2 separate regions of the Homo sapiens genome follow, and region 1 is linked to region 2. The links come from fine-mapping of genetic effects on gene expression. A gene starts in region 2. The other region holds a variant in brackets. All regions are shown on one strand. Distances are from middle to middle. Region 1 has its middle 23 kb from the start of CORO1A. Region 2 holds the start of KCTD13 (potassium channel tetramerization domain containing 13).

Region 1 (5,514 bases), 230 kb before region 2:
CAAACTTGGCTTTTCAAGATAAAGTAGAAATATGGATTTTTATGTGAAAGCTCTAGATCTTTCAATGTTGGCAACTAATTCAAAAATTTCTAAAAATGTTGTGCGAGCAAAACTAAATATGTCTTTGGTTTGGATGTGGTTTTTCTGGCCAGATTTTTTTTTTTTTTTTTAAAGAAATAGAGACAGGGATTTGCTATGTTGCCCAGGCTGGTCTGAAACTCCTGGCCTCAAGTGATGCTCCCACCGCAGCCTACCAAACTGCTAAGATTATAGGCATGAGCCACCAGGCCCTGCCCTGGCCAGCAATTTTTCTTTTTTGACTCTGTTCTTTGCCCTTGACATGGGCCTGAAATCTCTTTTTTAAAATTAATTTATTTATTTATTTTTGAGACAGAGTCTTGCTCTGTCACCCAGGCTGGAGTGCAGTGGCACCATCTCGGCTCACTGCAACCTCCACCTCCCTGGTTCAAGTGATTCTCCTGCCTCAGCCACCCAAGTACCTGGGACTACAGATATGCACCATCACACCTGACTAATTTTTTAATTTTTTGGTAGAGATAGAATTTCATCACGTTGGTCAGGCTGGTCTCAACCTCCTGACCTCAAATGATCCACCCACCTTGGCCTCCCTAAGTGCTGGGATTACAGATGTGAGTCACTGCGCCTGGCCTGAATTTATTTTTAATTTATATATTTTTTAGAGACAGGGTCTTGCCATGTTGCCCAGGCTTGTCTCGAACTCCTGAACTCAAGCTATCTGCCTCAGCCTCCCAAAGAGCTGGGATTACAGGTGTGAGCCACCGTGCCCAGCCTGGGCCTGAAATCTCTTACTCTTTGTTTCCTACCAAACTTTCATGTATCCTACTTATCCCTTGAAACCTGGCGAGGTGTGGTGGCTCGGCGAGCCGAGATCGCACCACTGTACTCCAGCCTGGGTGACAGAGTGAGACTCCATCTCAAAAATATAAAAATTAAAATAAATAAATAAAACTCAAGTCAAGATTTCCTTCTCTGGGAACTGCCTCTCCCCTGACCCACAGTCACTGCCCAAATGCTTTCCTTTCTGTTTTGTGTTAGTGGCCCTTGCTGTATACCTCAATCATTGTAACTGGTACATTGGATAGTCATTGTTTATATGTCCCCCTCTTCCACAGACTGAGTTGTTGTCTGTTTCTTTGAGACAGGATCTTGCTCTGTCGCCTTGGCTGGGGTGCAGTGGTGTGATTATGGTTCATTGCAGCCTTGACATCCCAGGCTCAAGCAATCCTCCTCCTGCCACAGTCTCCCCAGGAGGTGGGCCCACAGGCACGAGCCACTGGACCTAGCTAATTTTTCATTTTTTGTAGATGAGATCTCACTGTGTCACCCAGGATGGTCTCAAACTCCTGGCCTCAAGTGATCCTCCTGCTTCAGCCTCCCAGAGTGCTGGGGTTACAGGTATGAGCCACACCATGTCTGGCCTTCAAAATGAGTTGCATTTGCCCAGCACAGTGGCCAACACATGGCTGGCATTCAATAGATAAAATCCTCTTTCTTTCCCAACACTGCTAAGCAATGAGCACTTGCATACTCTGCCTCCACCATGTTATTTCCTGGCCAGTCCATCCTCTGTTCCCACTGCTATTACCCTGGCCGAGCAGAACATACCTTACCTCCTCTTCCCCATGGTGATTAGTTTACAGAAGAATTTATGACCTACTGTAGACCAATGAGATTCTTCCCAAGCACCATTGCAGGAACTTTTAGGGATGAGATTTCTTTCGACTCTGGTCGGCAAAATGGCAGAAAGAAGAGGCTGCCTGAAAATGAAGCTAACAGCCGGGCGCAGTGGTTCACATCTGTAATCCCAGCACTTTGGGAGGCCAGGGGAGAATCACTTGAGGCCAGGATTTCAAGACCAGCCTGGGCAACATAGCAAGACCTCATCCCTAAAACAAAAAATTTAAAAATTAGCTGGACAGGCCAGGCATGGAGGCTCATGCCTGTAATCCCAGCACTTTGGGAGGCCGAGGCAGGTGGATCATGAGGTCAGGAGATCGAGACCATCCTGGCTAACACGGTGAAACCCCGTCTCTAATAAAAATACAAAAAATTAGCCGGGCGTGGTGGCACGCGCATGTAGTCCCAGCTACTTCGGAGGCTAAGGCAGGAGAATCGCTTGAACCCGGGAGGCGGAGGTTGTAGCCGAGATTGCACCACTGCACTCCAGCCTGGGCAACAGAGCGAGACTC[C/T]GTCTCAATAAAAAGAAAAAAAAATTAGCTGGACATTGTGGCACTTACCTGTAGTCCCAACTACTTTGGAGGCTGACACGGGAAAATTGCTCGAGCCTCGGAGATTGAGGCTCTAATGAACCATGATTGCACCACTGCATACCACCATAGGCAACAGAGGGAGACCCTGTTTCAAAAAAAAAAAGTAACCAGGCGTGCTGGTGCTTGCCTATAGTCTCAGTGACTCGGGAGGCTGGGACAGGAGGAATGCCTGAGTCCAGGACTTTGAGGTTAGAGTGAGCTGTGATTGCACTACTGGACCCAGCTCTGGGCGACAGAGTGAAACTGTCTCTTAAAAAAATGTTTTTTGTTTTTGTTTTTTGGTTTTTTTTTGAGATGGAGTCTCACTCTTGTTGCCCAGGCTGGAATGCAATGTTGCGATCTCAGCTCACTGCAACCTCTGCCTCCCAGATGCAAGCAATTCTCCCTCGGCTTCCCGAGTAGCTGAGATTACAGGCATGCACCACCATGCCCGGTTATGCACCACCACGCCCGATAATTTTTATGTTTTTAGTAGAGACGGTTTCATCATGTTGGCCAGGCTGGTCTCAAACTCCTGATCTCAGGTGATCCACCCACCTCGGCCTCCTAAAGTGCTAGGATTACAGGTGTGAGCCACTGCGCCCGGCCCAAAAATATGTTTTTTTAATTGAAGCTAACACAGGTAAGGGATTGGTGAGACAAGTTCCTGATGACATTCTTTGAACACCTATTCAGGCTTTCCTGAAGCCAGCTATACACAGGAATTTTAATTTATATCAGTCAATAAATTTATTTCTGGCTGGGTACTATGGCTCACACCTGTAATCCCAGCACTTTGGGAGGCCGAGGCCGGTGGATCATTTGAGGTCAGGAGTTCAAAACCAGCCTGGCCAACATGGTGAAACCCCACCTGTACTAAAAATACAAAAAAAAAATTATCTGGGCGTGGTGATGCACTCCTATAATCCCAGCTACTTGGGAGGCTGAGGCAGGAGAATCACTTGAACCCAGGAGGTGAAGGCTGCAGTGAGCCGAGATCGAGCTACTGCACTCCAGCCTGGGTGACAGACTGAGACTCTGTCTCAAAAACAGAAAAAGAAAAAAAAAAAGAATAGAGGTGAGTTTCACTTCAGTAAGAGAAGACTAGCGACGCCGGGCACAGTGGCTCACGCCTGTAATCCCAGCACTTTGGAAGGCCGAGGCGGGCAGATCACCTGAGGTCAGGAGTTTAAGACCAGCCTGGTCAACACAGGGAAACCCTTTCTCTATTAAAAATACAAAAATTAGCTGGGCGTGGTGGTGCACTCCTGTAATCCCAGCTACTCAGGAGACCAAGACAGGAGAATTGCTTGAACCCAGGAAGCGGAGGTTGCAGTGAGCTGAGATCGTGCCACTGCACTCCAGCTTGGGGGACAGAGCAAGATTCTGTCTCAAAAAAAAAAAAAAGAAGACTAGCAGCACAGATTTCACGAGCAACCTATATATAGCTATTTCAGAATCACAGAATGCAGTCATCTTCTAAAACACAGGCTTAATGATACTCTCCTGCTTTGTAAACTGGAAGAGCTTCTTGGCACTCTCCTGTTAAATCCAAACTCTTCCTTATAACCTCTATTCAGAGTTATGTCCTTTCCAACAGAATTGCCTAATTTTAAGAGCTGGGAGATATTTCTGTTTACTATTTTACATTTCTTTTTTTCTTTTCTTACTTTTTTTTTTTTTTTTCTGAGATGGAGTTTCGCTTTGTCGCCCAGGCTGGAGTGCAGTGGCACGATCTTGGCTCACTTCCAGCTCCGCCTCCCAGGTTCACGTCATTCTCCTGCCTCAGCCTCCCAAGTAGCTGGTACTACAGGTGCCTGCCACCAGGCCCGGCTAATTTTTTGTATTTTTAGTAGAGACGGGGTTTCATCGTGTTAGCCAGGATGATCTCAATCTCCTGACCTCGTGATCCACCTGCCTTGTCCTCCCAAAGTGCTGGGATTAGAGGCGTGAGCCACTGTGCCCGGCCTTTTTTTTTTTTTAAGATGGAGTCTTGCTCTGTCGCCCAGGCTGGAGTGCAGTGGTGTAATCTCAGCTCACAGCAACCTCCGCCTCCTGGGTTCAAGCGATTCTCCTGCCTCAGCCTTCCAAAAAGCTGGGACTACAGGCGCCCACCACCACACCCAGCACAGACGGGGTGGCGGCCGGGCAGAAGCGCTCCTCACTTCCCAGACGGGGTGGCGGCCGGGCAGAGGCTGTAATCTTAGCACTTTAGGAGGCCAAGGCAGGCGGCTGGGAGGTGGAGGTTTTAGCGAGCCGAGATCACGCCACTGCACTCCAGCCTGGGCAACATTGAGCATTGAGTGAGCGAGACTCCGTCTGCAATCCCAGCACCTCAGGAGGCTGAGACGGGCAGATCACTCAAGGTCAGGAGCTGGAGACCAGCCCGGCCAACACGGCGAAACCCCGTCTCCACCAAAAATACAAAAACCAGTCAGGCGTGGCGGCGCATGCCTGCAATCCCAGGCACTCGGCAGGCCGAGGCAGGAGAATCACAGGAGCCTGAGGCAGGGAGGTTGCAGCGAGCCGAGATCACGGCAGTATAGTCCAGCCTCGGCAACAGAGGGAGACTGTTGAAAGAAAGAAAGAGAGAGAGAGAGAGAAAGAAAGGCGGGCAGGCAGGCGTTTTTTCACTTTCTTGACGGTGTTCTTTGAATCACAGAAGTTTCACGTTTTTGTTTCAAATTCTTTTTTTTTTTTTTTTTTTTGAGACAGAGTCTCACTCTGTCCCCCAGTCTGGAATGCAGTGGCACGATCTCGGCTCACTGCAAGCTCCGCCTCCTGGGTTCACACCATTCTCCTGCCTCAGCCTCCTGAGTAGCTGGGACTACAGGCACCAGCCACCACACCCCGCTAATTTTTATTTTTATTTATTTTTATTTTATTTTATTTTATTTTTGTATTTTTAGTAGAGACAGGGTTTTGCCGTGTTAGTCAGGATGGTCTGGATCTCCTGACCTCGTGATCCACCTGCCTTGGCCTCCCAAAGTGCTGGGATTACAGGCGTGAGCCACTGCGCCCGACCAAAATTCTTTTACACTTATTATGATTGTTGAGTATTTTCTATATTTTATTTTAAATCCTGGGATACACGTGCAGGATGTACAGGTTTGTTACATAGGTAAACGTGTGCCATGGTGCTTTGCTGCACCTATCAACCCATCACTTATGTATTAAGCCCTGAATACATTAGCTTTATCCTAATGCTCTTGCTCCCCCGACC
Region 2 (5,000 bases):
GTCCCAGTCCCAGGCAGTGAGGGCTTCAGCTGAATCTTTGTTGCTCCTCCATTTCTGATAGTACCCTCCAACCAAGGACCACCAGGAAGCACCTGTAGTTGAACAAGGGAGGCTGAACACCACAGACATCTCAGCAAGAACATGTGTGAAAGGACTTATTACAGGATTGGAACTTTCATTAGGGGACTTCCTAGGCGGGTCCAAAAAGGGGGGCATTTGCTCTGGGTTGGATGCTATCAGGAAGTAGGGATAATTCTTTTTGGTTATCTTAATAATTCTTATCTAGAAGATGGGAGGAATGAATCAAGCTAAAACTGTACTTGGTAAAGAAGCAGCAGTGGCCAGGTGCAGTGGCTCACACCTGTAGTCCCAGCACTTTGGGAGGCCAAGGTGGGCATATCACCGGAGGTCAAGAGTTCAAGACTCACCTGGGCAACTTGGTGAATCCCCGTCTCTACTAAAAATACAGAAATGATCTGGGCATGATGGTGGGTGCCTGTAATCCCAGATACTCTGGAAGCTGAGGCAGGAGAATCGCTTGAACCTGGAGGTGGAGGTTGTGGTAAGCCAAGATTGCATCACTGCACTCCAGCCTGGGTAACAGAGCAAGACTTCATTTCAAAAACAAAACAAAACAAACAAAAACAACAACCAAAAAAAAAGCAGCAGTAACTTACGCTGTGGGAGAGAGGATTGTGTTGGTAATTTTTGTGGTTTGGACAATGTTCTTGTTTCTGTATTGAGGCTTTATTATGGAATGGTCTTTTTCTAGATCAGTCAGAGAGTGACCTTGTCTGATGTTTTTTGTGAAATTATTTTGCTCAACAGGACACCACCATGGCCGTGCTGTTGGTGCCAGGTCAGCTCCTAGCAACATCAAGGCTTCTGGAGTGAGGGTGCAAACCAGCTCCCAGCTGGCAGCAGTTGCTTTTCTCTTTTACACCGCCACACTCGAAATCAGAAAATTGGCAACCCCTTTGGTAGAACATGAGCTCCCGGTCACTACAGGCCCATTTATACCCAGTAACAGGCCCAGGTCACACATTTACACTCCGACCTTCCTCCTGCGTGTGCATCCCTTACACCAACCACGCCCAGAGAAAAGTCACTCGTCTAGCATCTCCCAGGGACCTGCTGGCAGGGCTGAAGATAGAACTCTGACTCTGTGTTTTCCCTCCAGCAACCCCCCTTGCTAGACATTAAGACAGATTGTTAAATCCCTGATGTATCGGCTTCTAAACTGGATGCAGATCGGGTCAGATAAAAACACTTCTCAGTGCACCTTCTTGTCAACAGTGGGTTCCTATCTATTCTTCTTTCTTTTGGGATTGGGTGCTAGGTCCCACGACATTAGCTGGGATTCTAAGACCTTTGCTCAGCTGCTGCGGCCACCACTGACACGCCCTCTGCTCCTCAAATACGGAGAACAGTTCAGTGTTCCTGCCTGAGGATCTCTGCATTTGCCTTCCCTCTGCCTGGAACTCTTCCCTCACATCCGCTTCCCAGCTTCAGCTCGGCATCACCTCCTCAGAGAGGCCTTCCATCCTTGGTGCCCGGGCACCACTGCTACCCGTTTTGGCCTCTGTTTTTTTTTTTTTTTTCAAAGGACGTTATGTTGCCCAGGCTAGAGTGCAACGGTCCGATCACGGATTACTGCAGCTTCCAACTCCTGGCTTCAAGCGCTCCTTCTGCCTCGGCCTCCCGAGTAGCTAGGCTTACAGGCTGGGGTTACAGGTGTGAGCCACAGCGCCCGGCCGCTTTGGCCTCCTTTAAGAGCTTCCCTCCGCGCTTTGTTCGCAGTTCTGGTCACAGTCTGTTCAGTGCGCGGGGCTGGGAGGCGGGAAACTGCCCAATGCCCAGACCTCTCTGTCTGTTTCCCCTCAAGCTCGTGAAGCTCTCTGACAGCAGAGACCCAATCACGAGGTGGAGACTTCGCTTTCCACATCGGGCAGGGGGTCGGCCGCATCCTCGATCTGGTCCTGGTGACTCGAGACCAGAGAGGAGCGCACGTCGACCCGCCCGGGGAACCCGCAGGCCACACGCCAAACCTCTACGGGATCCCCCAGCGAGGCCACTGCGCATGCTCCATACTCGCAGCCCCGCCCCCATTCAGGGGCGGGGCCGCGCCTGCGCAGCTGCCCGGCGCCGGCTTCCGGGTGGTGCGAGCGAGATGGGGCGGAGGGCCGGTCTTGCAGAGTAGCTGCGGTGAGTGGGCGTGTGCGCCGAGCGGTCTGGCCCAAGGGCTGGGGGCCGGCCGAGGGTCTTCGGGAGCAGGCCGCAGGGCGCGGAGAGATCCTGGGATCGCCGTCCGCCGCTGCTACCCGGCATGTCGGCGGAGGCCTCGGGCCCGGCTGCCGCCGCGGCCCCGTCCCTGGAAGCCCCCAAGCCCTCGGGTCTCGAGCCTGGCCCCGCCGCCTACGGTCTCAAGCCGCTGACCCCGAACAGCAAATACGTGAAGCTGAACGTGGGCGGCTCGTTGCACTACACCACGCTGCGCACCCTCACGGGACAGGACACCATGCTCAAAGCCATGTTCAGCGGCCGCGTGGAGGTGCTGACCGATGCCGGAGGTACGAGCGGCGCCCCTACCGTGCCCCCACCCCAGACCCCCAACTCCCGTTCCCCGCAGTCTCTCACCACCGGGGCTCCTCATGCCCCTTCTCTCTGCCCGCTACTGTCCAGTCAACTCATTCTCAGCTCCCTCCAGCCCCCACATCCCATCTCCTCCCCTTTCTCATTCATAATTTCTCTTCTCCTCCCCCAATCCTTTACCCCCAGCAATAACCAACACTTACGGAACCCCTAACTGCCAGGCGCTGTGGTAAGTGATTGAACGTGTCAGTTCATAATCCTCATGACCACCTCTCCCACCCTTCACCCCTCAGCTCAAGACTTGGGAACTAGCCCTGCTGCCTGCAGTACTACTCCTGGCAGCCTTCCTCAGTTTCTTCCGACTGCCCAGCCTTTTGTTTCCCTCTCTGCTTCAGAACTGCTCACAGCCAGCCAGGAGAGCTGGGAGATCTTGTTTGCCTCTGTGTTCCCCTGACACAGGTCCCTGTACACTCTAGGAATCCACCTGTATACACACATTGCAGAAGGAGGCTGCTTTGGGTTTGCCAGGGACACCAGAGTGGAGGGTGGACAGGTCTCCTTGGCAGGTGAACCTTACCTTCTTGGAGTGTTGCATTCAAGTATGGACCCTTCGTGCCCAAGTGAGACTTTGAAGTTTTGGAGTTTGGGAGTGGGAGAGTCTTAAGGGAGGGGTTAACGAGGACTGTGAGAGCAGGAGAATAAAAATTTGAGAGGCGGAGATCTGCCTTCAAGTATCAAAGGTGAAGAATTCGGCCAGGTGCGGTGGCTCACGCCTTTAATCCCAGCACTTTGGGAGGCCGAGGCGGTGGATCACCTGAGGTCAGGAGTTCGAGACCAGCCTGACCAATATGGCGAAACCCCGTCTCTACTAAAAATACAAAAATTAGCCGGGCGTGGTGGTGTGCGCCTGTAGCCCAGCTACTCGGGAGGCTGAGACAGGAGAATCGCTTGAACCTGGGAGGCGGAGGTTGCAGTGAGCCGAGACAGCGCCACTGCACTCCAGCCTGGGCGACAGAGAGAGACTGTCTCAAAAAAAAAAAAAAAAAAGGGAAGAATTCATTTGTCCAATAAGTATTTGTAAAATATCAGTTAGTGCTGGAGATAGGTAAATGAACCTGACAAAATTATGGAAATTCCCTTTTTTTAGGGAAGTGGGAGATCAGAAGACCAATAAGCAAGTAAACAAAATGTATATGCATATGCAATTGCAGATAGTAGTAAGTTCTTTCTTTTTTCTTTTTTTGATAGTAAGCTCTATGAAGAATATAAAAGTTAAAATGGCAGTGAACTGGACGGGGGGAGGTAGACATTTTAATTAAATAGGATGGTGAGAATTAACTTCGGGGGTTAACAGTTTATTGATAAGGTAATTCTGCAAGAACTTTCTCATGGTGAGAGCCTTCTGACTGTAGACCAGATATGGATGAGTTAATTATCTGGTTGAATATGTATAAAAACTTAAGGGAGAACTCGCTGGAGATGTTTTAAAGAGATTTCTTGGCTGTGGCACAGGTTTGAGACAGATCAGTATTCAGACTTTTTTGTGGCTTTGGAATCCTTTTTCTTTTCTTTTCTTTTCTTTTCTTTTTTTTTGAGATGGAGTTTCACTCTTGTTGCCCAGGCTGGAGTGCAATGGCACGATCTCGGCTCACCGCAACCCCCACCTCCCGGATTCAAGCAATTCTCCTGCCTCAGCCTCCTGAGTAGCTGGGATTACAGGCATGCGCCACCATGCCCGGCTAATTTTGTGTTTTTAGTAAAGACGGGATTTCTCCATGTTGGTCAGGCTGGTCTCGAACTCTTGACCTCAGGTGATCCGCCCACCTCGGCCTCCCAAAGTGCTGGGATTACAGGCGTCAGTCACCGTGCCCGGCCTTCTTTTCTTTACTTTTCTTTTTTTATTTTTTTGTTTTGAGACGGAGTTTCCCTCTTATTACCCAGGCTGGAGTGCAATGGCGCGATCTCGGCTCACTGCAAACTCCACCTCCCGGCTTCAAGCGATTCTCCTGCCTCGCCCCCCCCCGAGTAGCTGGCACCAGCCACCAAGCCCAGCTAATTTTGTATTTTTAGTAGAGATGGGGTTTCTCCGTGTTGGTCCTGCTAGTCTCAAACTCCTGACCTCAGGTGATCTGCCTGCCTCAGCCTCCTAAGGTGCTGGGATTATAGGCATGAGCCACCGCGCCTGGCTGGAATCCTTTTTTCTTATAATTTAGGCCAGGTTTGGTGGCTCACACCTATAATCCAAGTACTTGGGAGGCCGAGATGGGAGGATCACTTGAGCCCAGGAGTTCAAGACCAGCCTGGGCAACATAGTGAGACTCCATCTCTACAAAAATTTTTTTTTAATTTAGTAGCTCCAGGTCCCGCAGCAAAGCCATCTTTCCCCCTGCCTCTCCCCACCCCACTAG

What was found. PIP is the estimated chance that this variant, and not a neighbour inherited with it, causes the effect. A credible set is the group of variants that fine-mapping cannot tell apart.
Region 1: its variant is the best candidate, but not a certain one, in a credible set for the expression of KCTD13 in cerebellum (GTEx, PIP 0.86).

What each region holds. Positions count from the first base shown.
Region 1 is chr16:30,158,069-30,163,582 of GRCh38, reverse strand. No RefSeq gene overlaps it. Among named protein-coding and RNA genes, the nearest start is that of CORO1A, 23 kb to the left of the region's middle. The variant C/T (reference allele first, on the strand shown) is at 2,232.
Region 2 is chr16:29,923,360-29,928,359 of GRCh38, reverse strand. KCTD13 (potassium channel tetramerization domain containing 13) reads left to right here and starts at 2,134. Exons shown (of 6, transcript NM_178863.5): 1 at 2,134-2,570. The coding sequence starts at 2,327. KCTD13-DT (KCTD13 divergent transcript) reads right to left here and starts at 2,137. Exons shown (of 3, transcript XR_001752362.2): 1 at 678-2,137; 2 at 429-593; 3 at 1-92. RefSeq lists a silencer at 2,229-2,468.